Linked DNA regions of Homo sapiens: all the other regions are linked to region 2. Evidence: fine-mapped expression QTL. Tissue or cell type: whole blood. Region 2 holds a variant in brackets; each other region holds the start of a gene. Each region is shown on its reference strand, or each on the opposite one.

Region 1 (4,000 bases), not on the chromosome of region 2:
CTCAGGCCCGGCTTGGGGCAGCTCAGCCAATGAAGGCCGGTTCTGCCTGTTGCACACTGCTTCGTACACGAGTGATGGTTCGGTTGGCACTGGAGTAGGGGAGGAGGGTGAGAAGAGAAGGCATTCAGGGTAAAAGGGAATTATCTGCTTCATCATGGAAAGAGGCAGGGAGTGTAATGTGGGGGCACGAGGAGGGAGGAGGGCAGTCTAAGTAGGTGAGCGGGAAGGGGAAGCCTTGGGGCTTTCAAGAGAAGGGCACCTGGGGTTAAGGATCCCAGAATCCTCCTAGAGTCTTACACTCAACTTCTCTTCCAGCAAGCACTGCCCACATTAGGATCCCGAAGCTGCAGGAGACACAAAGCTGAGGATCGGTCCAATCACTGGCAAGACTCCTTTCCTATACATCATCCCCTGGGAGGGCCCAGAGAAGTGTAGGAATCCTGGCTGTGTGTTTGGGCCGGGATCCTTACCTGTAGACGTCACTGGCTGTGGAGGCCTTCCGGTTTACGTTAACAAACAGTTCTGGGGCCAAGTAGCCCAGGGTGCCCCCTGGCTCCCCGGACCCTGTCCCTGACTGTGAGCCTCCCTGAAATGTGGACAGGCCAAAATCTGCCAGCTGCAAAGGAAGGAAAGAAGTGGGAGGTAGGGAAGACAAGGGGGCCAGAGAGCCTCCAGGAACCCCCCTGCCCCCAGAAGGTGCAGGTTCAGCTTTGTAAAGGGAGTGTGGAGGTCAAGGGAAGAGGTTCCCTTGGATGGTAGATCTAGGTGCCTTGTGGTAGGGCTAGGTCAAGGTCTGAGTCTCCAGGGCTGGGTCAGCCATGACTCTTTGGAGGGGCTGGTGGGGCAGCTGGTGGAAATGACTCGTGTGGCTCAGGGCCTCTATCACCTGGTAGGCAGGAGCTAAAACTCCTGGCTGGGCTTTGTCCCCTGGCAGCCCTGTGTCCAGAGAGAGAGGCTACGCCTATTCAATAGACAGGGCTCTGGAGGTCTAGTGTCCGGCGGGCCTGGCTGGAGCAGCTCTGGGGCCTTGTCTTGAGGCTGAGAGGGGTGTAGACCAGCTGACCTTGACGTGCAGCTCTGGGTCCAGCAGGACGTTGGATGGCTTGAGGTCCCGGTGCAGGAGCACCGGGTTCTGGTCGTGCAGGTAAAACATCCCAAGCACCACTTCTTTCAGCAGGCGGCAAAGGAGCGGCCAGGGCCGAGGGCACTGGGACTGCAGCAGCCCCGACAAGGAGCCGTTCTCCATGAATTTAGTCACCAGAGCCGGCTTGGGATCTTGGTCCCAGTTCACCTTCTCGATAACCCCTTCTAGGCGCAGCACGAATTCGTTATCCAGACTTGCCATGGCCTTGACCTCCCTGGATATCGCCTTCCTACACTCCAGGAGAGAGCTGGAGTCGCACCGGGGTCGTGGGAAAATCCCTCCCTTCGCCATTCAGGCCCCAGAGCACAGTGGCTCCACCTTTTTGGCCAGATTGCGGCTGGGGTCAACCGGGGTCACTCACGAGTTTACGATCTTGACCGCCACATCGTAGCCCCACTTCCTATGTTGCGCCCGGAACACTGTGCCGAACCCGCCTTTGCCGACGAGCTCCTGGTTCTCCAGTTCCTCGATGGACACCAAGGGGGCGGGGGCACCGCTGGGCCTGAGAGAGGGGTGTCGCCCACTAGCCGGCCGTGCCGTGCCTCAGCGCTGCTCCCCGCGCCCCTGTGACTCGGCGTTCTCACTGCAATCCCCAGCCTCCCTCGCCGGCCCCCACCGTCCCCGGACTCAAAGACGTTCTCTGAGCGAGTCTGTGGGGCTCTCTGGGTGTGAATGTCGGAGGCTGCGATCGACATGCCACTCCCTACTCACCATAACTTGACGCACGACATCAGGCTGGAAGGTGCCAGGGGGCCTCTGGAAATTGCGAGCCGTAGGAGATGGAGTGACTTCTGGGGCTTGGTCCTTTCGCAGAGAGGGGAAGGGGTCTGTCTGTGCAGGGGTCAGTCTCTAGACCAAGACGGTGAGTCTACTTTCCGGGTTGTTACCCTTTTTCCGAGTTGACTGAACAACTTCCCTTATAGGCGCCTCTACAGTCCCGCCCCTGGGGTGGGGCAGGGGGCAGAGCGAAAGCTAGTGCCTTTCTCCTTGACTAGCGTTTCCTGAGCACCTGCCGCAGCCAGATTAGGTGTTGCTGGGCATTGAGGATGTTAGGGAAGGAGTCCTCACCTTCCAGGAACCCACAATCAACCCACTCCTACAGTCAAAGCCTTCCCTTTTCCCACAGGATTTCCTGCTCCACGACCTGCCAGGCCATGAGTGGAGATGGTGCTTAGGAGGGTTTTATGGTTCTAGGGCTCAGCTCTCTCACAGCTGCCCTAAGATCATAGCCAACACGTATATAAAACTTATCATGCACCAGGTATATATATTAGCTTATTTAATTCTCACACGAACCCTAAGGGGATAGGTACTGCTTTTATTACCTTTCTATAGGTGAGGAAACTGAGACACTGAGAGTTTAAGTACCTTGCCTAAGCCCATATGGAAATAATGGCTCTGAACCATCAAGTTATCCTGTTTTCACATAGGCTTCAGGGCTGTACCACTCAGCTGGTCGTGCAGGTGGCTGGGAAAGGTGTGAAGCATCCAACAATGTAGTGAAGGATCCCTATCTGTATTCCTGCCCAGTCCCTATAGCTGCTCTTGCGAGGCAAGTCTTTGGCATTGATAGGGACTTATATGCCCTTTGAACAGGAGCTCCTGGAGGTGGCAGGCCCCAAGCCCACTCCCAGGGCATTGTGGTAAGGCTAGATTTATCAGCCCATCCAGAGGGTTGGTGACATTGTGGTGTACACTACAGTGGAAACACCTCAGAGCTTTCCTGCCCTCTCCCTTGCATGACAACTCTTGCATGCAAATACCCTAATTAATGTTCCTGACAAGCACATGCTCTGGACACAGTCTTTTGATAACCCAGAAGCATGGAGAGTCTTAAAGATTTAGGGCAGAAAAAAGGTGTCCATATTTTACCTTTCTGAGGTCTGACCATGACTGGAGGTTGTGGGAACCCGATAGGGCCTGCCCTAGGCACTCAATCCTTCACAGGGATACTCAATCCTGTGGGTTGTGCGTTGGCTCTCACTAAAGGTGCTCACCTTGGTACTTGCTTTCCATTTTGTTCAGTGGTCCATGGGCTCTGCTGGTTGAGGCAGAAGTGATCTGTAGTTTTTTCTAAAACAACTCTTGGAGAGCCACACCATGGCTTCTAGCAGGGTCAGTTCATGCTATTTTGGAACTATTTAGGGAATTGTTCAACCGTAGTCTCCTTAAAAGCCAATACATGGCAGATACCCAATAAATATTTGTTGAATTGAATGAATAAATGAACAACCCAAAATATCGAGCCTTTCTTAAGGCACTGATCATCCTAGATGGAGCTCCATACTCAGTAGGAGGAAAGAGGTGATTGGGTTCCTGTAGGGACTGAGGGCTCTCACCTGCACAGTTCATGAAATCCATCTGAAGTAGGCTTTAGTATAGAGATATGGTGGTATCACACAGAATCCAAGAAGGCAAGAAGTGTAGCAGGTCCTCAGAAAAGCCTAGAGTCAGAAGCTGAGAGCCATCAAAAGGGGCAGCCACTCCCTTTGTGATTCTTTTTAGAGAGAATAACCCAGGCTCAGTATCTCCACTTGAAGGGAACAGGCAGAAAGGATTTGGAAAGGTGTTATAACTGGGTTTCTTCAGATTGTGACGAGACCCTGAGAATGAGGGATAAACCACTGTGAAGCACAAAGTTGGGTGTGGTATCAGGGCCTATACTACTTTTTGACTCAAAATAAACAGCCTCTTTAAAAGAAGGAAGAGCAGGGAGAAGAACCTTAGACTAAGTGCCTAACAGGACCCTCAGCTTCCAGCAAGGGGGTATGGGGGTGGACCTAGGCAGAGGCTGATTCTTGGAATTCTGAGCTCTGGTCTTTTCTGAGGACTGATGCCTCTGACCACAGATGTCCC
Region 2 (4,000 bases):
ATGTGTTGTGTATGTGTATGGGATGTGTGGTATGTGGTGTGTATGTGTGTATGGGAGGTGTGTTGTGTATGTGTGTGTGGGATGTGTGGTGTGTGGTGTGTATGTGTGTATGGGATGTGTGGTGTGTATGTGTGGTGTGTATGTGTGTATGGGATGTGTGGTGTGTGTGTGGTGTGTATGTGTGTATGGGATGTGTAGTGTGTATGTGTGGTGTGTATGTGTGTATGGGATGTGTGGTGTGTGGTGCATAGTGTGTATGTGTGTATGGGATGTGTGGTGTGTGGTGTGTATGTGTGTTGTATGTGTATGGGATGTGTAGTGTGTATGTGTGTTATATGTGTATGGGATGTGTGGTGTGTATGGGATGTATGGTGTGTATGTGTGTATGGGAAGCGTGGTATGTGGTGTGTATATGTTTATGGGATGTGTGCTGTGTATATGTTTATGGGATGTGTGGTGTGTATGTGTGTATGGGATGTGTGGTGTGTCTGTGGTGTATGTGTGCACATGCATGTGGCAGCTGAGCCACTGGGGTGTTTGCTGTGCCTGGGAGCAGGCCATGTGGGTAGGTAGGCCTGGCTCTATTGATTCCTAGCTGTTGGCCCTGGCAGGTGGCTCTGCTGTTCCTTCATTGTGAGGTGAGGGCGCCCCCTCACCCGATCCTGGCTGTCATGTCTGTGAAGCCTGACCCAGCAGGGCACAGCATAGAGGGCTGTCCAGAGCAGCTGCACTGATATCATCATCATCTGCATTTTGGCCTGCTCCATGTCTGACATTCCTGTTAAGCAGGTGGCTTTAGGGAGAAGCATTGACACACTGACCCCTACAAAAAGCTTACAGTTCCTCAGTGATAAAACACAGGGTGCAGCCCGTGGCCAGGCTGGGTCCCCGGAGAAGACTCAGTTGGCAAACGCCATGTGGTTGCCACAGCTGGAAGCACTGGGGGAGGAGGAGCCCTGCCTGGCCCCGGCGGGGGCAGGGGGAGGGTGCAGGGGGAGGGTGCAGAGGGAGGGGATGAGTCATTTTGCCACAGGCACGCATGTGCTGGTGAAGGGGCGTGCGTGGGGACCATGGGTCACATCTCGGCTGTCCCCTTCTTTAGGAAGGGGTGGAGGTGGCAGGAGTGGGGCGGGTTGCAGGCTCAGAGGCACAGGAGGCCCGCACTCGCTCTGAGGCTGAGGAATAAAGGGTGTGGTGCTGGAAAGGGAACCCTCAAACCTGCTGACCTGGGAATAGCCCTTCAGGGGGCCTGTCAGATAGCTCGCCCTTGGGACAGGCGGTGGCGAGAGGCCAGGAGGCCTTTGGTGCAGGAGGGGAAGAAAGGCAGGGAGGGGCGTCTCAGAGGGCAGAGAAGGGCATCTCAGCAGCCCCGTGGTGTTTGCCCCTTTGAGGCGGTTCCATCCGTTGGCTGCATTGTCCACTTCGGTGACTGGGGCCACAGTGATTCTGCTGAATGCAATGGGAACTGTACCCAGAGTAGGGGTTCGCATGAGACCAAGGGATGGTGTCTAGCCACGGAACAGTCTGGAAGGTAGGGATGTAAGTCATAGGGCAAGTTCCATCTGTGGGACACTATCAGCTCAGGAGGGACAGCCAAC[A/G]AAACAGCAGGACCACAGGGGCCCTGGGGAGTAAATGCCTTTAATTGTCTAAGAGAGGAGCAAAGAAGGAGACAGAGTGAGTTGTGTGATTCGGGTAAAATTTCTAGAAAGAAACATGGCGAGAGGAGTTGCTGGGGACAGGATAATGCCCTAGAAAGAGGTGTCTGGGGGTTGGCGGTGGGTTTCCCACAAGCGGCTCGGTAGGATTGGGGCAAAACCAACCATGTGAGAGGGACCGGGAGCGGCACAGGAGAGGAGGCAGCAGCTGTGGGCTGTCAGGCATCAGGAACCAAGGGAAGAAAGAAGACAAGGAGCTGGTTGGGGTCGGGGGTCACAGGACTAGGGGATGGTATTTACAGGGTAGTCTTTTTAGGAGAATGTTTAAATGTGATTGAAGTCCAGTAAGTGGGAGCTAGCAGAATAGAAAGGATTAAAATCTAACTAGCAGCCCCAGGGTAGGCCGGCGTGAGTCACCTATGAGCTGGGCCTGGGCCTGGACTATCCCCTAGGTTTCCTCTTGGCGCTCTTCTCCCTTCCCTCAGGGCTCTGTGCAGTGGTCTCCACACAGAGAGGTCTTCCTGGACACATGCCCTAAGATAGCGTTCTCAGCACTGTTGCTCCTTGCCCTGCCTTATAGCAGCAACGTCACCACTCGTAGATGAAGGACTCAGCTCTGATTTGCTCCCTGCGTGATCCCCAGTACCTGGGCATCCCCCAGCCTAGAGTAGGTGCTGTCTGATACATTGGTATTGAATGAATGAATGGGAATGTGGCACTGCTTTCTCAAAGATGAGGGCAAATGGAGCATGTAGGACAGTAGAGAGAACTTTCAAAGTGAGAGGAGAGAATTTGAGGCTGCATCTGATGTTCATCATCTTATTTTAGGTCACTGTTTCTCAGTGGGCACGATGATATTTGATGTAGGGGGCACTTCTTTGGGTGAGACTGTCCCTCCCATTGCAGGATATTTAGCCACCCACATCACAAGTGGTACCATGGTGATTGTGATACCCAAAATGTCTCCACATTTCTCAGGTGAGGACCCTGCTGGAAAAGCCACCAGTTAGCCCGGACACATTCGTCCTCACTTCCTTCAGTACTTCCCACTCGTAAGAGCTTTGAAAATTCAGAAGGGCAATCTTTGGCAGATTTGTTAAGGTTTTTTAATATAGCCAGTAATGTTCCAGAATCTGACATGTGAATTTTAAAAAAAAACTATAGAGAAATTGGACCAGAAAGGTTGAAAAATGCCAAACCTTGCATTTTCAACCATGCTTGCAGTGATGACTATGTGTCTTCAAAGGTGCAGATTAACTATGGAAAGTTGCTTATTTTTATAAACAAAAACCAATGTTAATCTTCATTTTATTTTGATGCCTTACACTCAAGATCACATTGAACCTAATTCGTTCAATAAATAGAACCAACTTCTAGAAAATAAAGAGATCCTTAGATTAAAAGTGCTGTCAGAGTAGATAGATAACATTTTCTGTTGCCGGGTTTTTGGTCCCAGTTTTATTTTCTGCCTTGTTCCATCTGTGTTGAAAGAATAGTTAGCTCTGTGTATAAAACAACCAACTGACATTTCGTTAACTTTCCTTCTACATGGGGTTTCAGAAAGAAATGGGGAAAAAAAGGCTGGGGGGTTGAGCTGTGGTTGCCAGTTGCCACCTGTCCCCCTATCTGGTTAGGGCATTTTCTGATTTGGGAAGTGTAAATATAACCCAGAAAAAACAGCTTCCCCTCCTTTTATGCAAAAGTAGAAAGGCTTAAACAGAGTACAGCCTTAACATTGCCCCGGAAAGTTTCCACAGAACCCGTTAGACTAAATGAAAGCTCTTGCTCTGGGGGAGTGGGCCATGCCAGGAAGCTGCCCTACCAAGCCCTCTCTTGCTGGCAAGGCAGGGCTGGGCCTGGGCTACTGTCTCCCACCAGATAAGCCCAGCTTTCTTCAAGGCCCTAACAGGAACCTACATTTCACAAATTACCGCAGACACGCTCACAATTTTAAACTCTTTGCCTGTTAGGATCAGTGAGATAACAGAAACTTATAGGGAACTCAGAAAGCATGCTCCGGTGAGCAGTGAGCCACCTAGAATCAGCCAACTGGTAATATGCGGAAAATCTGCCAGGTTGTTGGTAAACTTTTGGTAGCTTGAAGTCTACCGTGGTTGGGAGTATTTACACCACAGAAATCGGTGAACGCTGCAAATCAAGGCTTTTTCTTTTTGAGAGCTGGTTTATCTGTGCACCACTAGCTTAAATACACTTTTAATGTCCTGACAGCTGAAATTTGACAGTGAAATTTGAAAGGAGGAATTCTTTTGGGTAGGGTTGTGTGTGTGTGTGTGTGTGTGTGTGTGTGTGTGTGTGTGTGTTGTGGAGGAGGAGCTGGGAAAGGG
Region 3 (4,113 bases), not on the chromosome of region 2:
GTCTCCTCCCAGGGGAAGGTCCCGGTTCCAATCCGGCTGCGGAGAGGCTGCCCCACCCTCGGGCCCCAGCCCCTCCCTTCCTGCCTGGGTCCTGCCCGCTGCCAGCCAAGCCTTTGGCCAGCTCTGGGACTGCCTCTGGGTGCAAGGGGCCCAGGGCTGGGGCCTTTCTCTACACAAGCAGGGCTTCCTCCCAGGCCCTTGAAGGGGTCTCTTGGTGGGGGTGAGGGGGGTGTCCTGGGGCCCCGGGGCCTCTGCGGTAGCATGTCAGGCCAAGACACTTTTCTAGGATTTCTTTGAAGCTGGGAGGACCTCCCTCAGGAATGGGGAGGAGGTTTCCTGGGCTGGGGTGGAATTTCAGGAAAGGGGGTGATGTGGAGGCTAGGGGTCTGAAGGCTGCATCTGTCGGTTAGAGGGGTGCTTGGTGAGGGGCTTGTCCTGGAGGGAGGCTGTAAGGATCAAGCCCTGGGAGGGATTGTGGCTCTGGGGGTAGTTAGGGGCGTGACCTCAGAGCACAGCGTGAGAAGCTCAGGGCTGAGAACTGGGAGCCAGCCCGGAGGTGGCTCAGGGGTTTTGGGAGGTTATAGTATATACAGTCTTAGAAACATTGAGTTCATTTATGGGGTCAGAGAAACTCCCAAGGAATAGATCTTTCTGGGGGTGCCAAGAATCTGGGGGCTTCTTCCATGGAGATGATTTGAGAGCTATTCAGGGTTTCTGAGAGGGGCTCAGGGAGTTGCAGCGGAGAAAGCATGGGATGGAGGAGGGGCTGGTTTTCCTTGGGGGTGGGGTGGGAGAGTGGAGGTTTGGGCCTCCGGGAATGGGGGATTGTCAGGACTTGGGGTCTTGGAGATTTCTGGAATGGCCAAGGGGCAGGATGTCTTTTTAAATCTCGGGTCGGAGAGCAGGACTCTCTTAGGACTGGGTAGTCCCAGAAGAGTCTCAGGGCCAGGGTCTGGGTAGAATTTCTAGATTCTGGGGGCAGTCATGGAAGGGGCTAAGAATCAAACGTGGGGCCGGGCACGGTGGCTCATGCCTGTAATCCCAGCACTTTGGGAGTCCAAGGCAGGCCGATCACGAGGTCAGGAGTTCGAGACCAGTCCAATATGGTGAAACCCCGTCTCTACTAAAAAATACAAAAATTAGCCAGGCATGGTGGCACTCGCCTGTAGTCTCAGCTACTTGGGAGGCTGAGGCAGGAGAATTGCTTGAATCCAGGAGGCAGAGGTTGCAGTGAGCCAACATCGCACCACTGCACTCCACCGCACTCCAGCCTGGGTGACAGAGTGAGTGAGACTCTGTCTCAAAAAAAAAAAAAAAGAAAAAAAAGAATCGAACGTGGTGGAATCTCAAAGGTGCTGGGCACTGGCATTCTCCCAGGAAGGCTCTCAATGGCTTAGAGGGGAAGTTGGGGACTGGGATTTGGGGGAGATAGGGCTCAGGGTGGTGGAAGGTGGCACCAAGGGCGTGGTGGGGGTCCTGGGAGTGCTTAGGGTCCGAATGGGGTGAGTATTTTGTATTTAGCATGCTCCCAGGAGGTGCTCAAAGCCAGGTCAGCAGGTAAGCGGGGTCTTAGGCACTGGGAGAGGGAATAGTGGGTCTCGGGATGCGAGTGCAGAAGGAAGGGTCCCCCGTGCAGGGGATGGAGGCTCTCCAAGAGTTTAGGTTACAATCTGTGGGGATCTTTTAAGATTAGAGGGCCTTATAGGAGGGTCTCAGTGATGGGTCAAGGGGGAAAAGGGGTCTCGGGGATCCCCCCAAGGGCTCAGTTCTGGGTCCCGGGGGACACCCTCCCGGGTGAGGGCCCACTACCTGGATGAACTGGATGGTCAGCGCGCTCTTGCCCACGCCGCCGCCGCCCACGACCACCAGCTTGTGTGTCTCGCTGGGCGGGGGGTCCCCGGGCCCAGGTCCCCCGCCCCGGGGCCGCCCCCGCCCTGTCCCGGACGCCGCCCCGCTGCTCATGTCGCCACCGCTGCTGCTGCCTTCGCTACCGCCTGCGGGGGAGCCGGGCGGGACCCGGGGGGGCGGGCTACGCTAATGAGGCTACTGCATAATCATGAGCTCTGGCAAGGAGGGCTCGCGTCTCCGGACACTTAAGGAGGGGGACGGGCCAAAGAAAGGGAGGAGCTATGTTAATAAGGGAAAGGGAACGGCGTTCGCTGCGAAGGGGAATTCCGAATGAGGCGGGGCTATGCTAATGAGAGACCTGTGCTTTGCCCTGAGCGGCGCCACGCGCTCTCAGCGGGAGGGCGGTCTGTGGGCGTGGCTATGCTAATAAGAATTTATTCTTTCAGCAGACGGGGCGGAAAGTTCCTCAGGGGAGGGGCTATGCAAATAAGGACCCCTGTGACACTGCTGCTTGGGGCATCGTCTCCGAGGCCTTAGTATGGTAGGCGGAGCTCGTCGACTCGCGCGCGCGGCCGTATATAGGGCGCTCCGAGGAAGCAGCAGGTTTTGAGGAGTAGCTCCACCTCCCTCCTGGGATCCTAGCCAAGCTTTCGACCCCGGCGTCTGGGTTAGAAGCTAGAGTCTCCGCCCGCTAAGGGACCCAGGCTTCCGGTTCCCGCTGTCCCAGCCAAGCGGAAGACAGACTGGGAGGAGAGTGGGGCCCTAGAGGGGGACAGCAGGGTAACGGGGCAGGGAGGGGCCGTGAGATCACTGCATTCCTAATCCATGAGCCAGCTCGCCCAAGTAGGGATGCCTGGGTCATGAAGAGCCTGGGGCCAGGATTTCTGGGTCTTGAAGGAGAAGGAAGCAGAGGGCCCAGACTCCTGGGTCCTTAGGAGAAAATGGGGCTGGAGATGTGGACTCCTGGGTCCTGGGGAGGAGGGTGTCAGGGAGGAAGGTAGACAGGTTCCTTCGTACTAGGTTCGGTAAAGGAGGGAGCCGGGGGCCTGGACTCTTAGGTCCAGGAATTGGAGAGGCTGGGGACCCAGGATTCTGGATCCGAGCGAGGGCACTGGCTTGGGGGGACCCGAATTCGTATGTGAGAGCTTGAGACCAGGACTAGTCTGGGAGACCGACTCTTGGATCCGAGGAAGGAAGAATCAGACTCCTGAGTCGGAGGGAGGAGGGAAATAGGAGTCTGGACACTGCTCTGAGTGAGAGGATTCGGAATTCAGACTTCTCTGTACTGAACGAGGCGGCTATGGGGTCGGGCTTCTAGGTTCTAAGTTTATTTTTATTTGTTTATTTTTGAGACGGAGTTTCCGTCTTGTAGCCCATGCTGGAGTGCAATGGCGCGATCTTGGCCCACTGCAACCTCCGCTTCCCGGGTTCAAGCGATTCTCCTACCTCAGCCTCCCGAGTAGCTGGGATTACAGGCGTTAGCCACCACGCCAGGCTAATTTTTGTATTTTTAGTAGAGACTGGGTTTCACCATGTTGGTCAGGCTGGTCTTGAACTCCTGATATCAGATGATCCGCCTGCTTCGGCCTCCCAAAGTGCTGGGATTACAGACGTGAGCCACCGCGCCTGGCCTATTTTTATTTTTTTAGAGGCGGGGTCTCCCTATATTGCCTAGGCTGGCTTCTAACTTCTAGGCTCAAGCCATCCTTCCGCCTCAGTCTCCCGAGTGGGACTACGGTGTGCGCCACTGCATCCCGTCTGGTTCTAAATTTAGGGGGGCCTAGAGGATCTGGATTCTGAGAGCCCCAGAATGTGGGCAGCACAACATCCAGCAAGTCGTGCTCACTCCGCCGGACTACAATTCCCTTGCGTCTGTTCTGCCTGGCGCCTCTTACGTCACCTCCTGTTCCGCCACCCTTTCCGCGCGCGCGCAGGGCACTGTGGGGCGTCATCGCGGGCTACCGCGGCCCCGCCCACTTCACCTCTCACCCCATTAGCTGTCCCCGCGCGACAGAGGCGGTGCGCGGACTACGCCTCCCGGCGTGCATCGCGCGGACCCCGCCCCATGTGTCCCATTGGCTTCTGGGAAACCGAGTGCGGTTGCCTTCCCGCCGGCCTTCACGTCGCCGTGCTCGGTACTTGAAATCCCGGCAAGCTCGGCGGCGCTTTAGCTCCGCCTCTCTCCTCCTTTGCTCACGAACCCCGCCCCAGCCCGCCCCGCCCCGCGCCGGGGCCGGAGCCGCAGCCCGAGCGGCGGGGTAAGAT
Region 4 (4,113 bases), not on the chromosome of region 2:
GACCAGGCCTGGCAGAGGCTCCAGGCCAGGGTGATGATGCAATGGGGTTTGGGCAAAAGGCCAGGGGGGTGGGGTGGGGGTTGGGTGGGGACCTTGAATAGCCCAGAACAACAGTCGGGGCCTAATCATTTTTCTTTTCTCCCATCCCCAAGTCCTCCAGACAAAGGAGAATTTGCCTTTCTCCCCAGTTGTATTAGCTAGATTAACCCCTTTTCTCCAAAAACTATAGGGACTGAGTAGAGATCAGTTAACTGTCTCATGTGTAAAAACAGGTCGCTTCTGACAGAATTCCCCTCAAACCCTGAGATCCTGGGGTTGGGGTGGGGGTGAGCAGTAGGAAGCTCCCAGCTCAGAGATGTAGAAGAAAAAGGATTACACCAGTCATTGTGGAGGACCAGGAATCTGGCATCTATGGCCTAGCCCAGGAGCAACCACCTACCTCTCTTGCTTCCCAATCTCCCCGCCATCCCACATTTAAACAGACACCCTTGGTTCTAATGTTGCTTCCACTCTAACTCCTGTTTCCCAAGCCTGTCAGTACCCCATTTTCTAGGCACTCGGGGTCCGGGTCTGCTTATCACTGTGCTGAGTTGGGAATAAGGATCCTCCTTTGAGATTTCCAGGGTCCTGAGTCCTTCATTCTGACGTTCTTGGCCCCACGGAGCCCCCGTCTCCCCAGCTTCCGACCCCAGCCCCAGAAGTCCCGGTCTCAGCACAGCTCCAGCCGACCAGCTACAGGAAACCAGCTTTTCTCTTCCTCCCAAGAGCCAGAGGAAGAGGGAAACCGCCCACCCCCCTTCACGCGCGCACACACCCCTCCCGACACATCCCAGCACCCGCCCTTGGCTGAGTTCGCCCCCAGCCCCAGGGCCCCAGTGCCAGGGTCCCCGCACTCGCCCCCAGTTCTCGGATCCCCTCGCCTGAACAGAGATTGGGGGCGGAGGGAGGAGTAGGAGACAGAGGAGAAAGGAGAGGGAGCCGCCGTCCTCTCTCGGGTCTTTCCCCGGTCTGAGTTGAGGGGGGAGGGGAGGATGAGGCTGGCCCCCATTTAACCTTCCGACCCCCTCAGTCTTTGACTTTCCTCCTACTACACGTAGCTCATTCGGCTTCTACCCGTTCTCTCGCCGCACAATGGCCCCTACGGATCCCGAGGTCTCCTGGAGCCCCCAAAAGCCCTTCCCGGCCTCTGCGCCCCCTCTGCGCCCCCACCCGCCCCAGGTCCCAGCAGCCCACAGACTTCAGCCAGAGACCCTCAGCTCTCCATTCACGCGCTCTCCTCTCCCTTGGCCCGGAGACCCCTGCCCAGACTTCTCCAGCTCCGTGTCCTCTCCCCACCGGACACATGTCTCCCCACTGATCTCAAACGCCAGGGCCCCTCCTCACCCGCCACGGTGCCCTCCCTACTCCAGCGCGGGCCCCCAACTCTAGCCAGGGCCCCCAACTGCAGCTCTATTCCTTACAAACTCCACCCTCAAACTTAAGCCCTGGTCCCCTCCAGACCCCAGCCGCGCCCCCAGTCTCCAGGCGGCTCCCCCACCCCCATCCCGTCTCCAGCCCTCCTCACTCACCCGTCTGTTCCCGGCCGGTAAAACTCCACTGAGAATCCGAAGAAGGAGCCCGGGGGCCCCGAGAGTACTGCTGGGGCCTCCGCGTCTAAGTTGAAGCCCCCGACCCTGGGTGGCGGCGGCAGCAGCAGCAACAGCAGCGGCAGCAGCGGGGGTCGGCGCCGGGGGCCCCAGCGCAGCTGCACGGCGTGGAGAGGGGACTCTGGCGTCCGGCTCCCCATAGCGCCCGCTCTTCCCTGTCCTGGGGCCACCGACCCGGAGCCGCTTCCTAAACCTCCCAGAGGCGAATGACTCAACGCGGGGAGGAGTTTGCCAAACTCCCGGCTGAGCCCTCCCCCCGCCTGCCGAGGGGGCTGGCGGGGGGGCATTCCTGGGTCCCTGGAACTCTGAGCCCGCGTCCCCCACCCCTAAGGGGCGTGGGGGGGGGGCGCACCCCTCCAACCCCCTTTCCCCAGCCCCAGCTGGAAGCCGGTTGTCTGGACTGGGTTAGACTGGGCGGGTTTGGGTTCTTCCCCCTCCTCTCTGCTTCCCCCTCCTTCCTCCCCATTCCTTTCCAGATGTACAACGTAAACGCTCGGAAAACGAGTCGGAAAAGGGAGCGGAGAATTTCCTAATGAGGAAAGGAATCACCTCTGGTGGGCGGAGGAAGCCTGTATATGTGTGTGGGGTCTCCCTCAGTGCTTTAGGGAGGAGACTTTGGGGTCTAAAGAGACAGGAGACTCCTCTGGCGTCCGGCCAACTGGGATTCCCCCTTGCCTTCCGGGGCCGCCGGGTGCCTGGGTTCTGGCCAGCTGGATTTGGGACACAACAGTTGAGGTACAGAGACAGCGTTCGCAGTCAGCTTGCTAGAGGACCTACACGGGCTCCTCAAGTTCCGCTGCTTCCTCCTCCAAGCTTGCTAGTATTGAAAACCCAGGAGTTTGGGGTCATTCATCAGGAGGATTCTGCTCCAGTTTGCCCCCTTCTTGGTCCTAGGGTATGTAAACCTCTGCTGAGCCCCTTCCTTGGATCTGACAGTTGACCAAAAGCCTGCGAGTGGCTGGCCCCTCAGTACCTGCTTGATTAAACTGGCCGGGTTCCTACAAACCTGGAGAATTGTGAGAGGTGGTGGTGGTGGTGGAAAGTCTTGCAAAGGGACCCAACCTTCAGCTCCTAATGGCTGTAAACGCTGGGAGCTCTGGCCAGGCACGGTGGCTCACACCTGTAATCCCAGCACTTTGGGATGCCGAGGTGAGCAGATCACCTGAGGCCAGGAGTTCAAGACCAGCCTGGCCAACATGGCAAAACCCATCTCCACTAAAAATACAAAAATTATCCAGATGTGGTGGTCCGCACCTGTAATCCCAGCTACTCGGGAAGCTGAGGCAGGATAATTACTTGAACCCAGGAGGCAGAGACTGCAATGAGCCGCGATTGCACCACTGCACTCTAGCCTGGGTGACAGAGCAAGACTGTATCCAAAAAAAAAAAAAAAAAAAAAATCCAAAAACCAAAAACCAAAAAAACAATGGGAGCGGAAAGCCAGGACCCCATTCTTCCCAGATTCCCCTGTGGAAGTAGAGGAAGGGACTCTAGAAAGGGAAGGCAGTGACCCCCTGCCCACCTCTTCCCCAAGCTCAGGCTCTGTGTGATGAGATCACTTTTCAGGATTCTAGCCTTTATCTTAGTCTGGGGGAGGGGACTACAAGTCCTTTCAGTCTCTTTCCTCCAGGACTCCTCACTTTCCAGAATAATACCCTGTCAATAATATCCTGTCAACCCTGTCCCTTCTGTTCTCCAGTCCCCTGCCCCACTTCGGGCTGAAAGGCTCAGAATAAGAGTGCCCAGAGTCAATGTTTTTTTCCTGCCATGACTCTCCCCCTCACTCTGCTACTCCACTTCCTGTCCCAAATCACCCATCTGCTTTTTTAAAAGCCCCCCTCCAGAGCCAGCTGCAGCCCAAGGGAGAGGCTGGCTGGCCAGACTGTGGGGCAATGCTGGCCCGTATCCCATTCTCACATCTGCAAGTCCTGACCCTTTCTTAGGTGAGGAACCCAGGGAATCTCTGGGTCAGGATCTTTAAGCCCAGCATTGCCAAAAAGGCAACCTTTAGGTGAGAGCTACTCAAGCCATGGGCTGGGAACCCCCTTTGGGAGGAGAAGGGCTGAGGCCTGATTGCTTTTTAGCCCAGCAAAACACGTGTGTGAACCAAACACTCTCCTTTCTCAGTCTAGGCAAACTCTTTAGATTTTCCCAGGATTTGGGAGATTAGGGGTGGGGGTGGGGAGGGGTGCAGGGAAGGAGGTGTGTGACTCAGCTCCTCCCAGGAGCCTTGGTGGGGGACAGGGGACATAGCGTCCTGCCCCAGTCCTCCTCCCCACTCCACCCCTAGCCTTGGCCAACTCAAACAGGCCCCCTCCCTGTCCATTCCCTGCTCCTGTTTACACCGGGAGCCCCTTAGTCATTCTTTGGCTGGCCTTTCTACTCTCCCCAATATCCCTCCTCTCTTGGCTCTTTCTGCCCTTATAAGTCCTCTCCCAGTGGCCCCAACACCTCCTGCCTTTCCTCT
Region 5 (4,000 bases), not on the chromosome of region 2:
TTTGTTCTAAGGGTTTCATATGCAGTAACTTATCTGATTTTCATAAAACCCTTGCGAGGTGGTTCCTATGACTGCACCTGTTTATACTGTTGAGGAACTGAGACACAGAAATGTTTAATAACTTGCCCCAGGGTTGCACAACTAGAGAGTGGAAGAGCTGGGAGCAAATCCTGATTCCAGGCTTACAGTGCTAACTATGTGTTCTATGGCCACACTGATCTGGGTTAAACAAGATGACCTGGGCTACGGCTGAAGCCATTAACTAGCAATGCTCATGCAACAGGGACCACCCTAAAATGGGTAGAGTTCAGCTGGAAACCTGGTAATATTTGGAAACTTTAACGAACCACTCCCAATCTTCAACACAAATGGGCCAAGCATAAATAAAAGCATGAGGGCTGAGAAAGGCATACTTAGTAAAAGTGACTTAACTGACTTGTTCACTGCAACCATTTCATGTCTCAGACATGCGCCTTTTCCCATGCCCATGCAGCATGTATTAAAGATTGGCCATTTATGGACTGTGAGGAGATATCAATAGGTTATAATGGGAAGAAAGTTTACAAATGACATTCTTGACAAATTGTCAAGAAAAGGAAAAGCACTAACAAAACATTCAATCAACTTGACAGTTTTTAACAAACAGAACAAACATGGATTCCACTTTTCCAACTTCATTTTGTGTTGAACAGAAAAGTAAATCGTAATTAACAACTGTTTACAGGGATTTAATCCCAGTGGCAGATTAAGCACCCTAGTCTCTTTCTCCTCATTCCCCAATTTTTTTAACTTGGCAGAAAAAAATACTCATGAAAAGAATAATCCGCAATCGCATAGGAAAACAAGAAAAGATGCCATTGAGAGTCTGTGGTGGTAAAGAAGTCTTGGAAGATAGAGAACAGATAGGAGAGAAATCTACTATCCACAATATGCACAGGGGAAGGAGATAGTGCAAAGATCAGTGCAAAGTCAGAGAAAGGCAGAGTAAACATATACTAAGAAGAGGAAGGGGTCTTGGAGGCTCCTTTTAGAACAATTCATTATACAGCAGCGCTCAGAACAGGAAGTCTAGAGCTTCCTCATTCTTCATCTGTCATGAGTCCCAAAGATGAAAGGGAGGCACAGAGAGGTTTAGTAACTCACCCAAGGTATTCAGTGGCAAAGCAGAGCTTGTCTGACTCTAAAGCCCTGTTTCTTTCTATGCAAGATACTACATCTCATATATGACTGTTCAGATTTTTATTATGTAAAGAGATTTTGCAAACGAATAAGCAAAAGACAAACATCCAACTAGAAAATAAAAAAGCAAAATACATGAACAGAGAGTGATAAAAGAATAAGCCAAATGTGCAATGAATAATACGATAAGCATGTTAACTAGCTAGTAGAAAGCATAAAGAAGGCCAGGCATGGTGGCTCATGCCTGTAATCCCAGCACTTTGGGAGGTTGAGGTGGGCGGATCAGCTGAGGTCAGGAGTTCGAGACCAGCCTGGCCAACATGGTGAAACCCTGTCTCTACTAAAAATACAAAAATTAGCTGGGCGTGGTGGTGCACATCTGTAGTCCCAGTTACTCAGGAGGCTGAGGCAGGAGAATCGCTTGAACCTGGGAGGTGGAGGTTGCAGTGATCTGAGATGGTGCCATTGCACTCCAGCCTGGGTGACAGAGCGAGACTCCGTCTCAGAAAACAACAACAACAAACAACCAAAAAAAGTGTAAATGAAGACAATTTGATAACATATTTGTCTATCAAATTGGCCAAGATAGAAAATAATAGTAATAATCTCAGACACTGTGAGTGGGAAGGTCAACAGGTCCAAATGTTCTGAAGGCTGATTTAGTAATCAGTGTCAAATGTCCTAAAACATGTGCTCCTTTGAATTTCCACTTCTAATAATTTATTTCAAGGAAATAATCATGTATTTAGAGAAAATATATAAAAAGTTCATGATACACTAGAGACGAAATTAAATGTACTCTCATTTTTTTCTTTTCCACCAGCTTCCCAAGTACCTCTAGTCATTTACACAATGGATAACAGATGAGCCGCCTATTGCGGGCACTGAAGGATCAGAGCTTAGGTGAGGGTAGAGGGCAAATCTCGGCTCCATTCACAATAACAGGCTGGACTCTGGCGAAAAAAAGAGGTGTCAGTGTTCCCTCCATGTGCCCCCTTTTAACAGTCTCCTAATAAGTACCACATGTCTGAGCTCTGAGAGAGCCTCAGAGTTTAAATAGTTGAACTCCACCCTGCAGCTGCTGCCGCGAAGTTAACTCTAAGAGCTGCAGTCACCAAGAGCGAAGAATAAAGCAGCAAAGACAGAAACTCACCTGGACTTTGAGTTTGTCGTTCCTGCCCCTTTCCAGGGGCTGGGACAGGGATCACTCCTCAAGATTGGGAGAGTTACAGGGAGATGCTAGCAGGCAAAACAGGAAGTCTGTGCTTTGACAAACGCAGTAAGGGGCCGGGCTTCCGAGAAAAGAAAAGTGAAAGTTTTCGGAGTTTGCCAAGCCGGAAGCTGAAGGCAGGTCGGTGCCTGCAGCCTCTCTCCACCTCCTCATGGGCACTTGTGAGGCTCCCAGGACGTCTTGGCAGTTGGGGTTTGGGGGAGGGCGTGTTGCCAGTTGGGATCAGCCCAGAGAGGGAGGTATGGGAGGAGGAGGCATAAGGGTACAGCCCCAGCGGCAATAGGAACTGGGAACTCAGCGTCCAAATGCTTCCCTAACCACATCTATTTTCCCATGACTTGTCCTCATTCTGTACATTTTAGGTTGATGAAAATGTTCTCAAACTGGATTGTGGTGATGTTTACATAACTGAATGAATTCACTGGAATTTATCCAGTGTGTTATCAAACTCTAACAACACACAAAAAAACAAAGAGAATGTGCCAGAAATGCCTAGAACTTGTCAGGATAAGATTATTACAGGAAGAAATTGAAATGAAAGGGAACCTGCACATGAACTGGAATTGTGCAGAGGCAGGCAGACCTCCAGGCAGAAAAATGGCTGAGAGCTGGGCAGGTAGTTGGGAGCCAGGAGTCTGAGGCAGAACTGGGACCTGCTGATTCCAGAGAGCAGTAACTCAAGGGCTGGCAGGGACACCCCTTCTCATGCCCCTTTTAAAGATCCCTAATGTACATTGACATGTGGGGCCTATGAAAAATCCTAAACTATTGGCCAGGCACAGTGGCTCATGCCTATAATCCCAGGACTTTAGGAGGCCAAGATGGGAGGATTGCTTGAGCCTAGGAGTTTGAGACCAGTCTGGGCAACATAGTGAGACCCCATCTCTACAAAAAATAAAAAAATAAAAAATTAACTGAGTGTGGTGGCATGCACCTTGTAGTCCTAGTTAGTGAGGAGGCTGAGGCTGGAGACTTGCTTGAGCCCAGGAGTTCAAGGCTGCGGTGAGCTATGATTGCACCACTGCACTATAGAAATCTGTGTAACTTTGGGCCAGGCTCGGTGGCTCACGCCTGTAATCCCAGCACTTTGGGAGGCTGAGATGGGTGGATCACAAGGTCAGGAGTTTGAGACCATCCTGGCCAACATGGTGAAACCCCATCTCTACTAAAAATACAAAAATTAGCCAGATGTGGTGGCGGGAACCTGTAATCCCAGCTACTTGGGAGGCTGAGGCAGGAGAATTGCTTGAACCCAGGAGGTGGAGGTTGCAGTGAGCCGAGATCGCACCACTGCACTCCAGCCTGGGTGACAGAGCAAGACTCCATCTCGAAAAAAAAAAAAAAAAAGAATTCTATGTAACTTTGATTAAATCAATAATTCTCAAATGTATTTGACCCACAAGTTCCCCTACCAGGACATCCACAAACTCCTCAGATAAAAGATGGGAGACATGGATCTAAAGTTTAAGAAGCTTTGAAACCAAGGCTAACTGCATAAGAGCAAGCCCTTCTATGCAGGCACAAACAGCATATCCCACCCTAGTATGTACAGAATAGCAGACCCGGCCTTGCGGGTAATGGCTGTGGGTG
Region 6 (4,113 bases), not on the chromosome of region 2:
TGGTACACAATGTCCTATGAAGGTTAGCTTTATTATCACCATCATTATTATTGCAGAAAGACTTTCAGTTCAGAATAAGACAGCACAGTTACAGAGACCTGGTTTTATTTTCCAGCTTCTTAACTGAGTCATCTTTCAGCTCCTTTTAATTAAAAAGAAAAAACAATCAGAGATCTAATTGGGTATCAGGAAGATACACAATATGACTAACAGGCACTAATATTACTACACTTATAGTCTCTGGAAGGCTGGACATACTTATCCAAGAACTGCCTAAATTTTTACAATGACACACCATGCTAAATCTTCCATATTAGAAATTCCATATTTCTCTCCATACTAGAAATAATCGTTCCATATTAGAAATAAGAACGTAGATTTGGTAACAAGGGAAACTATTCAAATTTGCCAGTGCTATTATTTGTGTGCCTTCAGATGGGTGGGGAAAAAATGTGTCAGCAAGCAATGCAGCCTTTCTTTAGTTTTTTACTTATCCTCTAAAGATCATGCAAAAAAAAAAAAAAACCAACAAACGTTTACTCTTGGATGTTTAACCTTGGCTCCGACAGAATGTTCCTTGTATCAAAAAACAAGAACTCAGCCAACAATGTTTTTGTTGTTAAACGGTTGCATGAAGACTATGTCCAGTCAAATCTAACCCCTCACCCCGCTCCAAGGCTATGACCCTCAATTTTCATCAAAGTTCCTACCATCTCCCACTTTGTAAAGGCCCTAAAGAAGTTAATGAAGAAGGCAAAGTTCCTGTCCTCTGCTGTCACTCAGTAATGAGCAGTTTCATGTGGCAGTGCAGAAACTGGGGTTTGAGAAACAGAGGTGTCCTGACACTCTGGACCGGTAATCACGAAAACCCCAGCACTGCCATAAAGATGCTGTCTTAACTCGGCTCCAAACAAAGTTCTGTCGGCGGCCGGCAGTGTTTCAGTGGGCAGCAATGTGGTGATACCTTCACAGGATACTTTATAGGCTTCAAAACACTTCCCTCCCTCCAGGCCATTAACCTTCTAAACCACACAGTGGGGTATGGCTGGAGTATTCTCCCCCTGAGGCAAGGGAACTGAAGTTCAAGAAGGTTTCTTGACTTGCCAAGATCTCCCCGCTACTTTGGCTTTAAGAAACTGGGTCTAAGAAACTCAAGCTTACGGATTCTCTGTTCTCTGCGCGCTCCCACCACATCTTCAATTCAAAGATCCTTCCAAATTCCACAGAAATAACCCAGTAAGGGCAGCTCTTGAGTATACCTTTTCCTTTGAGTCTTAATTTTCACTCAAGGCGAAATAACCCCTCCTCTGAAAGTTCTCCACGTTTTCCAAGCGGACAGCATCAAGTTCGCAGGGGATCTGTATCAGTCTCAGCAGGTGGACTTCACAAGGGGCGGGTTGGGGGAACGCCCGCCTGACCGTGTCCGGCGTGGCGGGGGGTTGGGGGCGAGAAGAGTGGGGGTTGCTATGTAGGGCGCCCGGACCAAATAACACGCCGCGATTTCACACTCCAGCCTAGCTCAGTTATGTAGCCAAATGTTTTTCTGTCACCACATATCCACGACTTTGGCTGTGTTGAGGACGAAAACAGAGAAAAGACACTGATCCCAGAACACTGCGCCTGGGAGGACGCAGGGCGCAGGCTTTGTAGTCTCTGAGAATCGCCCTGCGTAAAAGTGTCCTGAGGTCCCGCTTCTGCGCCCTTCCCGGCCCAAGCCGAACACAGGGTCAACCTCACTCTACAAAGTCAACCGGATAGAAATCCGCCACCCCGCGAGGAGCCCCTTCCTACTGTCTCCAAGGGGTCCCCGACACTGCTCTGAGCGACCCTAAGATACCTGGGTGTCTCTGCTGGGCACAAACCTCTCTGGCGCCACTTCCACCATCCAACCTCTCCCGCGGCCCTCCCTTCCCTTTCTCCAACCACCCTCTCCACCCCGCGCCGCTCCCATCTCGCCCCCGGCCCCGCCAGCCTCACCCAGCCAAACCCGAGCGGTGGAACGCTGCGCTGGGTAAACGCCGCGCGTCGGGTCCTCCCTCGCGCGGCTCCGGGCAGCGTTCCGTGGCCACCGCGCTCCCGGTAACAGCAGAAAGGGGAGGGAGGAGAGCTACCGAGGAGGGGACAGCGACGCCCCGACGCCGCCACGCCCCCCGCCTCCCACACGGGGGCCACCGTAGCTCTCTAGAAGCTCCTCAGGGAAGCAAAGCGCCGTTCCCGCCGCAGGCACCGAGACGTCGCCCAGATGGAAGAAACTCTGGAGATGCGCGCTCCTACACCGGTGCCGCGGCGCCCGGGCCCAGCACCACGCACCTATGCGCGCCTCTGCCGGTCCTCCTAGAAATCCCGCCCTGCCTACCCGCGGCGCGAGACGCAACGACGCTTTCAGGGGTCAAAGACCTGGCAGAAATGACTTCCCAACCCCAGATGCCCCCAGCAGCAGTATTTAGCAGTCATACAATTGCCTGAAATGAAGAATGAGTAATCTGGATGAGTCGGCCCTGAAATCGACCTGCAACTTACCCGGAACGTGAGCTGTCTCTCTCTGACCTCTGCTGGCTGCTTCACCTGGAGTCTGAGTCCGACTCATGTAGCACTTCACTGTCCGCGTTAGTTTAGCCTTCACTGTCAGCAACTCGTCACCTTGTCCTCTTGCAGCGAAGGTTTGGAATCCCATCACGGGTGTGCAGTGGTTAGTCCTGAGATCATGGTGGTGCTAGGAGAACCTGCCAACCAATACAGAAAGTTGTCACGAATAGAAACCTAAGCTCTGGCCGGGTGCGGTGGTTCAAGCCTGTGATCCCAGCACCTACTTTGGGAGGCCAAGTCGGATGGATCACTTGAGGTTAGGAGTTCGAGACCAGCCTGGCCAACATGGTGAAAGCCTGTCTCTACTAAAAATATAAAAATTAGCCGAGCGTGGTGGCGGGTGCCTGTTATGCCGGCTACTAGGGAGGCTGAAGCAGGAGCAACCCGGGAGGCGGAGGTTGCAGTAAGCCGAGATCGCGCCATTGCACTCCAGCCTGGGCGACAGAGCAAGACTGTCAAAAAAAAAAAAAAAAAAAAACAGAAAGGAGAAGAAGGGAAGGAGGGAGGGAGGGAGGAAGGCAGGCAGGCAGGCAGGAAGGAACCCAAGGGAGGGAGGGAGGGAAGAAGGAAGGAAGGAAGGAAGGAACCTAAGCCAAGGAAGGAAGGAAGGAAGGAAAGCAAAGAAAGGAAGGAAGGAAGGGCGAAGGAAGGAAGGAATCTAAGCCAAGGAAGGAAGGAACCTAAGCCCAGGAAGGAAGGAAAGAAGGAAGGAAGGAAGGTAGAAGGAAGGAAGGAACCAAAGCCAAGGAAGGAAGGAAGGAAAGAAAAGTAGAAAGGAAGGAAGGAAGGAAGGAACCTAAGTCCCAGAAGGAAGGGAGGGAGGGATGGAGGAAGGAAGGAAGCTAAGCTCTCTCTCGCGGTGCCCTGACTTCTCCCGGGGAAGGACCTCTGAGCTGCCTGCACTGGTAATGACACGTAGGTGAACCGGTCCTGGCTTTCTTAGAAGATTCCCTGCTGCATAAAACCAAATCCCGTTGCACTTTCCTGGGTTCCTTGGCTTTGTCCTTTGTCATTTCCAGGATGGAGCAGAGGCACTGGTAATTTGGCTTTTACTTGCCTGGTACCTCTGGCATGGAGTGGCTAAACGGTGGCACCATGTACTAGTTGCTGCCATCTTCAGATAAAATATTGAATCAATATGACAAAAGTCAGATGAATACTAGCTGCCAATTACCCTGCTTCCCTTGGGGGCAGCCTGTTTGGAGCATAGACCAGCTTTGACCTGCAAGAACTCTGGATATTTGGAATATTTAAAATTCCAAATACAGTATCCCAGGAATTCAGGTCAGCTGAAGGCCGATTGGGAAGGGCTTACCTTAAATGAATCAGAAAGAAAAAGGTGTGGGTGTGTGCTAACATTTTTTGAGTATCGGCTATGTGCCAGGTACTTTTTCTTATTATTTTAAGCAAGTCTGTGAACATCCCTGAGAATAACAAATCATTTGTTCCCATTTCGCAAGGGGGAAATCTATGACTTAGGTTCAAATAACTTGCCCAAGGTCACAGAGCTAATAGGTAGCACAGTTA
Region 7 (4,113 bases), not on the chromosome of region 2:
AGATCTTCAAGATCCTGACCTTCAAGTAAAGCATGTGCATAAGGAAATTCTATTAAAGCACTGAAATGCAATTCTTCACTTCAAAAGACTATGCCAACAAAAAGATTATATGATGAATGGCTATGATCTTCCTAAATTGTTTTGTGACTTTCAGGTGCCAAAGTTGCCTCTCTGAGCTGCCTCGCAAGTTGGCAAGGAAAAACTTTCTCTACACATCAAAATCGGCAATCATTTAAGTCTGCTCTTAATCTGGGTTTTAAGTGCACCAGTAAGCACTTACTCATTTGCCCTATATTTTAAATAAAAGCTGACTTACCTGAATATTCTAATTTCACGTTCTTCCCTTAAAATCGATTTCACCAAATCGATTTTAAGTTGTAAGCAACAGCATTCCTCCCTTCAGTAATCCACCACGTACACTGAAGCACTTAAATTCTACATACAGGGTGGGATACCATACAGTGGAAAAGATGCGAGAAATTACCCACCGTCAACCAGTTTAAGTCTTCTGACAACTGTTCAAAGACTTTTAGAGAAAGCCTAATAACTGAATCGCATGATGGAGTATCTGATATACGCGGAATAGCACTCTGAACTTTCTCTACTGTGTATACAACTCTTGATTACAAAGAGGAAACTAACGACTAGGGCTTCCCCGAGCGAGAGAACCGGTAAGGTAACAGGCTAAAAGGGCGTCGTTGATTTCTTGGCTGCAGCGACAGAGGCGGGAGACACACCCCTAGCGTCGGTCTGAAACACTACAGCAGCGAATTCTACCTAGGGATTAATGTGAGGGTAAGGAAAGACAAATTAAAATCGCCATGATTCAAAAACAACCACTCCAAGAGAGAGACACAAGAAGGTACCAAAGAAAATGAAAAAACCCTTGGTAGTAACGGAAGCATGAAAAATTAAGCGCCCCCATTTCTCCCAAACCAAGTTCGCGTATGTTTTCGTGAACAAACACCTTGGATCTTTCCGGTTCGCCAGGGCAGCGAGCAAAGCAGCAGCGAACGGAAACCCCGCAGGGCTGCGCACCGCAGCTAAACCGACGCTCGCAGGAGAGGGGAAGTGAGTGGCAGGGTTCCCTGCCAAGACTCACTGCTGGGAAACAGGCAGTGAGTGGAAGCAGCAGCAGCTCTGGAGAGTAAGTGGGTCTTATGTAAAGTGCCATTTGCCACATATTGTTATTTCCAAAGGATTTCAGAATACCCTCGAACTCGAAAAACAGAGTGAGTGTGGAGGGGAGGGGGGTGCTCCACGTGGAGGAGGGTCGCGAGAAGGAGAGTGCGCCGGGCTGATGGTCAGCGGTGCCCGCGGGGGTCGATGCCGGGCGGGACCGGCGGCGCGGGGGTGGGGCGACGGCGGGGCGGCGGCCGAGCAGCAGAGGGGCGCCCCGCAGAGGCCGGGGGCGGGCGCGGGGGCCCCGCCGCCGTCCTGTCAGCAGCCGCCCCGCCGCCCTCTCCGGCTCGCCCGCAACCGCCGCGGGACCCGCCGGGCCCGGGTCTCTGGAATTTTCCACGGGGGACAGCCGACCGGGGGCGTCGGGGCTCGCCCCCGCACCCGACCCGGACGGCGGCAGTAGGGGGAGGGATGGTGCATCGAGGAAGCCAAGGTCTCACCATTTTGCTCGGCGGGTCGGCGGCTCGCTGGCTCGCTGGCTCGGAGAAGTGTTGCGCTCAGGCTGGCTCGCAGGAAACGGCGGCGGCGGCCCAGCTGCGGCCCTCGGGTCGCCGGCGGGGAGGGGGCGCGCGTGGGGGAGGGGAGGCGGCGCCGCGGGGCCCGCGCCGGCCGGGCGATTGGGCACGCGAGGGAGCGGGCAGGGTAGGGGGAAATAAATTAAGGTCGAGATTCAGAGCCGGAGAGCGCGGGAGGAGCAGCGGCGAGAGGCAGGAGAGGCAGAGAAGAAGAAAGGAGGGGGAGAGGGGGCGAAGACGGCCGGGAAACTCGGGGGCTGCAGCCTCGCGCTCGCGCCGGAGCCGTGACGGACTCACTGCAGCGGCTCGCGCTGACCCGCAACCTCAAGGCACGAAAAAAGGGGAGGGCGGAGAGGGAGGGGAAAGCGGAGTGCTGCAGCGCGCGGGGCGGGGGCGGGGCTTCCGCGAGCGCCGCACATCCGGGAACCTGCGCGCCCCGCTGGGCGGCGAGTGCCGCGGCGCTCTGGCGAGCTCTGGTTGGGGAACGCTGAGCGCGCGGACCACGTTCGCCCCTCAGCCGGCCGCCCCTTGCGTGCAGGGTGGGGGGAGGCCAGGGGCGGGGGCGCGGACGTCGGTGACGTCGCGTGGCGGAGCCCTTCCGGTCATGTGGCTGGAGGCGGGCGGGGAAGAAGGCAAGGCTGGGAGGGGAAGGAGGAAATGCGAGGGTTCCCCGGCGGGAGGAAGCGCGAGGGGTGCGCGAGTGCTAGCGAAAGGGGGACAGGGGCCCTGGAGTGGAAGCCTTGCGGGAGAGGAGGAGCAGAGGAGCAGTCTTAGGGTGTCAGAACCACCCGGATGCCGCACCAAAAAACAGGAAAAATCCAAGTCCTGCGAGAGGCAGTCAAAGGTATCTGTGCATCCGTGTACCGACTTGGATCCACTACAGAATTGCACGGCCCATCAGGACTGCTGTCACCCCGGTGCAGCACCCGCAGGCCCATCTGTAATATGAATTGGCAGAGTCAGGAACCAGGTTGCAAAGACAGAGAAGCGAGCCAAAGCTGGCCGCAGCCCGAGGCGTGGGGAGAACCTGGGCAAACGAGGAGAAGGGATACTTCCCACTCGCAGAAAGACTTTCCACCCAGCTCTGCATTCCCATAAACCGTCCAGACTCCCCTTTGGCGGAGTCCATCAGTTTTTGTTTAAAAAAAGAAAAAAACTCGAATGTAGATTGCCCGCTTATCCTTTTAGTAGAGCTATATCCACTCCTGTGGCAATTATCTTCCCAGAAAATTCAGATTACAATAGGAAATTACATCCAGAAAAGCATAAGGAGGAAATTTATGTTCGAGAGAAGAAATAAAGCTGTCAGGAGAGGTGTGATGAGGATAACGAAGAAAACATTTTGCAACTATTTTAACCAGTTATTCCTTTACAAGCCTTGATAATCGCCCGCACTCGTGTGTGTTTGAGAGTGTGTGTGTGTGTGTGTGTGTGTGTGAGAGAGAGAGAGAGGATGTTTTCTGAGTGATCGGAAACTCCTTATTGATAAAGCCTTTGAGTCATTTTATAAAAAGCCATTGTGTTGTTTTTTTTTAAAAAAGTCTTAATGATCCTTACATGAGAACTTTATTCTTTTTATGTGCTAATTATTTTTCCATATGATGAGCATGCATTTTTTTCTAATAAACGCTCAGCGATTTGCCCTAGGACTAAATGGTTCCTGTCTCTCTTTCTCTCTGTCTTTCTCTCTCTGTCAATCCCCCCCTCCCCGCCCCTCCATCCCTCCCCTTCCCCCTTCAGGAGCTACTTTGCTTCTGTGTCAGGATGAATAAGGAAAAGAACTTAGACATAACAAGCTGTGTCACACAGTGAATGTATCAAGGAAAGGCCAAGAAGGGACACTTTCTTCCACAAGTTTCTTGATTTAAATATGTTGCTATTTGATACTAACATATTACAGAACAAGAAAAAGTCCCTAGGGTATATGTGTAACGTTTTCTAGGTATACTATTTAAAATTAGTTTTTTATCATAAAAAGACGTGCTTTTTAAGAAAAAGTACTGTATGCAAAATTCTTCCTCTCTCCACTTACCAGAGGTAATCATGCTAACTGCATTTGTTTGTGTCCCTTGGACATTTTCAGTGAAAATCAAATTATTTTAACTAAGGGGTATGCACTAAGAAGGAATTCGAGCTATTTGGAATACAGTGGATTTAAAATAACCCATAATTTTGTTGTGTTGGAGGCAATTTATACTAGTCTGAATTCAGTAAGATAAGTAAATCCAAAATGCACCTTTAATAGGTTTTTCATCAAAAGGCTGAGGGGAAAAGTATGGTAAGTAGTCATTCTCCTTTTTGTCTCTTTCCATTAAATTTTGATGTAAAGCTTAGTGTGAGTGGGAACAGGTACCAAACAGTCCTGCAGAAGCATATGTGTTTTTAAAAATGTATGTACCAAATAGCCCTGCTAAAG

Evidence for each region. PIP is the estimated chance that this variant, and not a neighbour inherited with it, causes the effect. A credible set is the group of variants that fine-mapping cannot tell apart.
Region 1: it holds the start of RIPK3, and the variant in region 2 is the best candidate, but not a certain one, in a credible set for the expression of RIPK3 in whole blood (TOPMed, PIP 0.63).
Region 3: it holds the start of RRAS, and the variant in region 2 is the best candidate, but not a certain one, in a credible set for the expression of RRAS in whole blood (TOPMed, PIP 0.63).
Region 4: it holds the start of ITGA5, and the variant in region 2 is fine-mapped to the expression of ITGA5 in whole blood (TOPMed, PIP 0.97).
Region 5: it holds the start of SP110, and the variant in region 2 is the best candidate, but not a certain one, in a credible set for the expression of SP110 in whole blood (TOPMed, PIP 0.51).
Region 6: RUBCNL starts here. The variant in region 2 is the best candidate, but not a certain one, in a credible set for the expression of RUBCNL in whole blood (TOPMed, PIP 0.52).
Region 7: PPP3R1 starts here. The variant in region 2 is the best candidate, but not a certain one, in a credible set for the expression of PPP3R1 in whole blood (TOPMed, PIP 0.72).

What each region holds. Positions count from the first base shown.
Region 1 is chr14:24,337,952-24,341,951 of GRCh38, forward strand. RIPK3 (receptor interacting serine/threonine kinase 3) reads right to left here and starts at 2,040. Exons shown (of 10, transcript NM_006871.4): 1 at 1,856-2,040; 2 at 1,506-1,646; 3 at 1,064-1,373; 4 at 471-616; 5 at 298-344; 6 at 1-89. The coding sequence starts at 1,875. RefSeq lists enhancers at 1,406-1,475, 1,706-1,905, 1,926-1,995.
Region 2 is chr7:50,335,283-50,339,282 of GRCh38, forward strand. All of the region lies in intron 3 of IKZF1 (IKAROS family zinc finger 1), which reads left to right. Among named protein-coding and RNA genes, the nearest start is that of IKZF1, 33 kb to the left of the region's middle. The variant A/G (reference allele first, on the strand shown) is at 1,599.
Region 3 is chr19:49,638,137-49,642,249 of GRCh38, forward strand. It overlaps RRAS (RAS related), which reads right to left and starts at 2,007. Exons shown (of 6, transcript NM_006270.5): 1 at 1,810-2,007. The coding sequence starts at 1,962. It overlaps SCAF1 (SR-related CTD associated factor 1), which reads left to right and starts at 4,073. Exons shown (of 11, transcript NM_021228.3): 1 at 4,073-4,106. RefSeq lists silencers at 1,744-2,133, 3,994-4,113 and enhancers at 1,854-2,523, 2,524-3,193, 3,194-3,863, 3,404-3,503, 3,614-3,963.
Region 4 is chr12:54,417,413-54,421,525 of GRCh38, forward strand. ITGA5 (integrin subunit alpha 5) reads right to left here and starts at 1,854. Exons shown (of 30, transcript NM_002205.5): 1 at 1,569-1,854. The coding sequence starts at 1,786. The region is part of intron 2 of GPR84-AS1 (GPR84, ZNF385A, ITGA5 and GTSF1 antisense RNA 1); the gene reads left to right.
Region 5 is chr2:230,217,542-230,221,541 of GRCh38, forward strand. SP110 (SP110 nuclear body protein) reads right to left here and starts at 2,443. Exons shown (of 19, transcript NM_080424.4): 1 at 2,333-2,443. It also overlaps a transcript of SP140 not described here. RefSeq lists an enhancer at 2,172-2,651 and a silencer at 2,369-2,555.
Region 6 is chr13:46,385,157-46,389,269 of GRCh38, forward strand. RUBCNL (rubicon like autophagy enhancer) reads right to left here and starts at 2,096. Exons shown (of 15, transcript NM_025113.5): 1 at 1,978-2,096. RefSeq lists enhancers at 1,863-1,952, 2,333-2,612, 2,643-2,742, 2,763-2,872.
Region 7 is chr2:68,250,503-68,254,615 of GRCh38, forward strand. PPP3R1 (protein phosphatase 3 regulatory subunit B, alpha) reads right to left here and starts at 2,030. Exons shown (of 6, transcript NM_000945.4): 1 at 1,623-2,030. The coding sequence starts at 1,625. It overlaps PPP3R1-AS1 (PPP3R1 and CNRIP1 antisense RNA 1), which reads left to right and starts at 1,101. Exons shown (of 2, transcript XR_001739527.2): 1 at 1,101-1,232. RefSeq lists silencers at 1,350-1,459, 1,640-1,689, 1,950-2,389 and an enhancer at 2,480-3,149.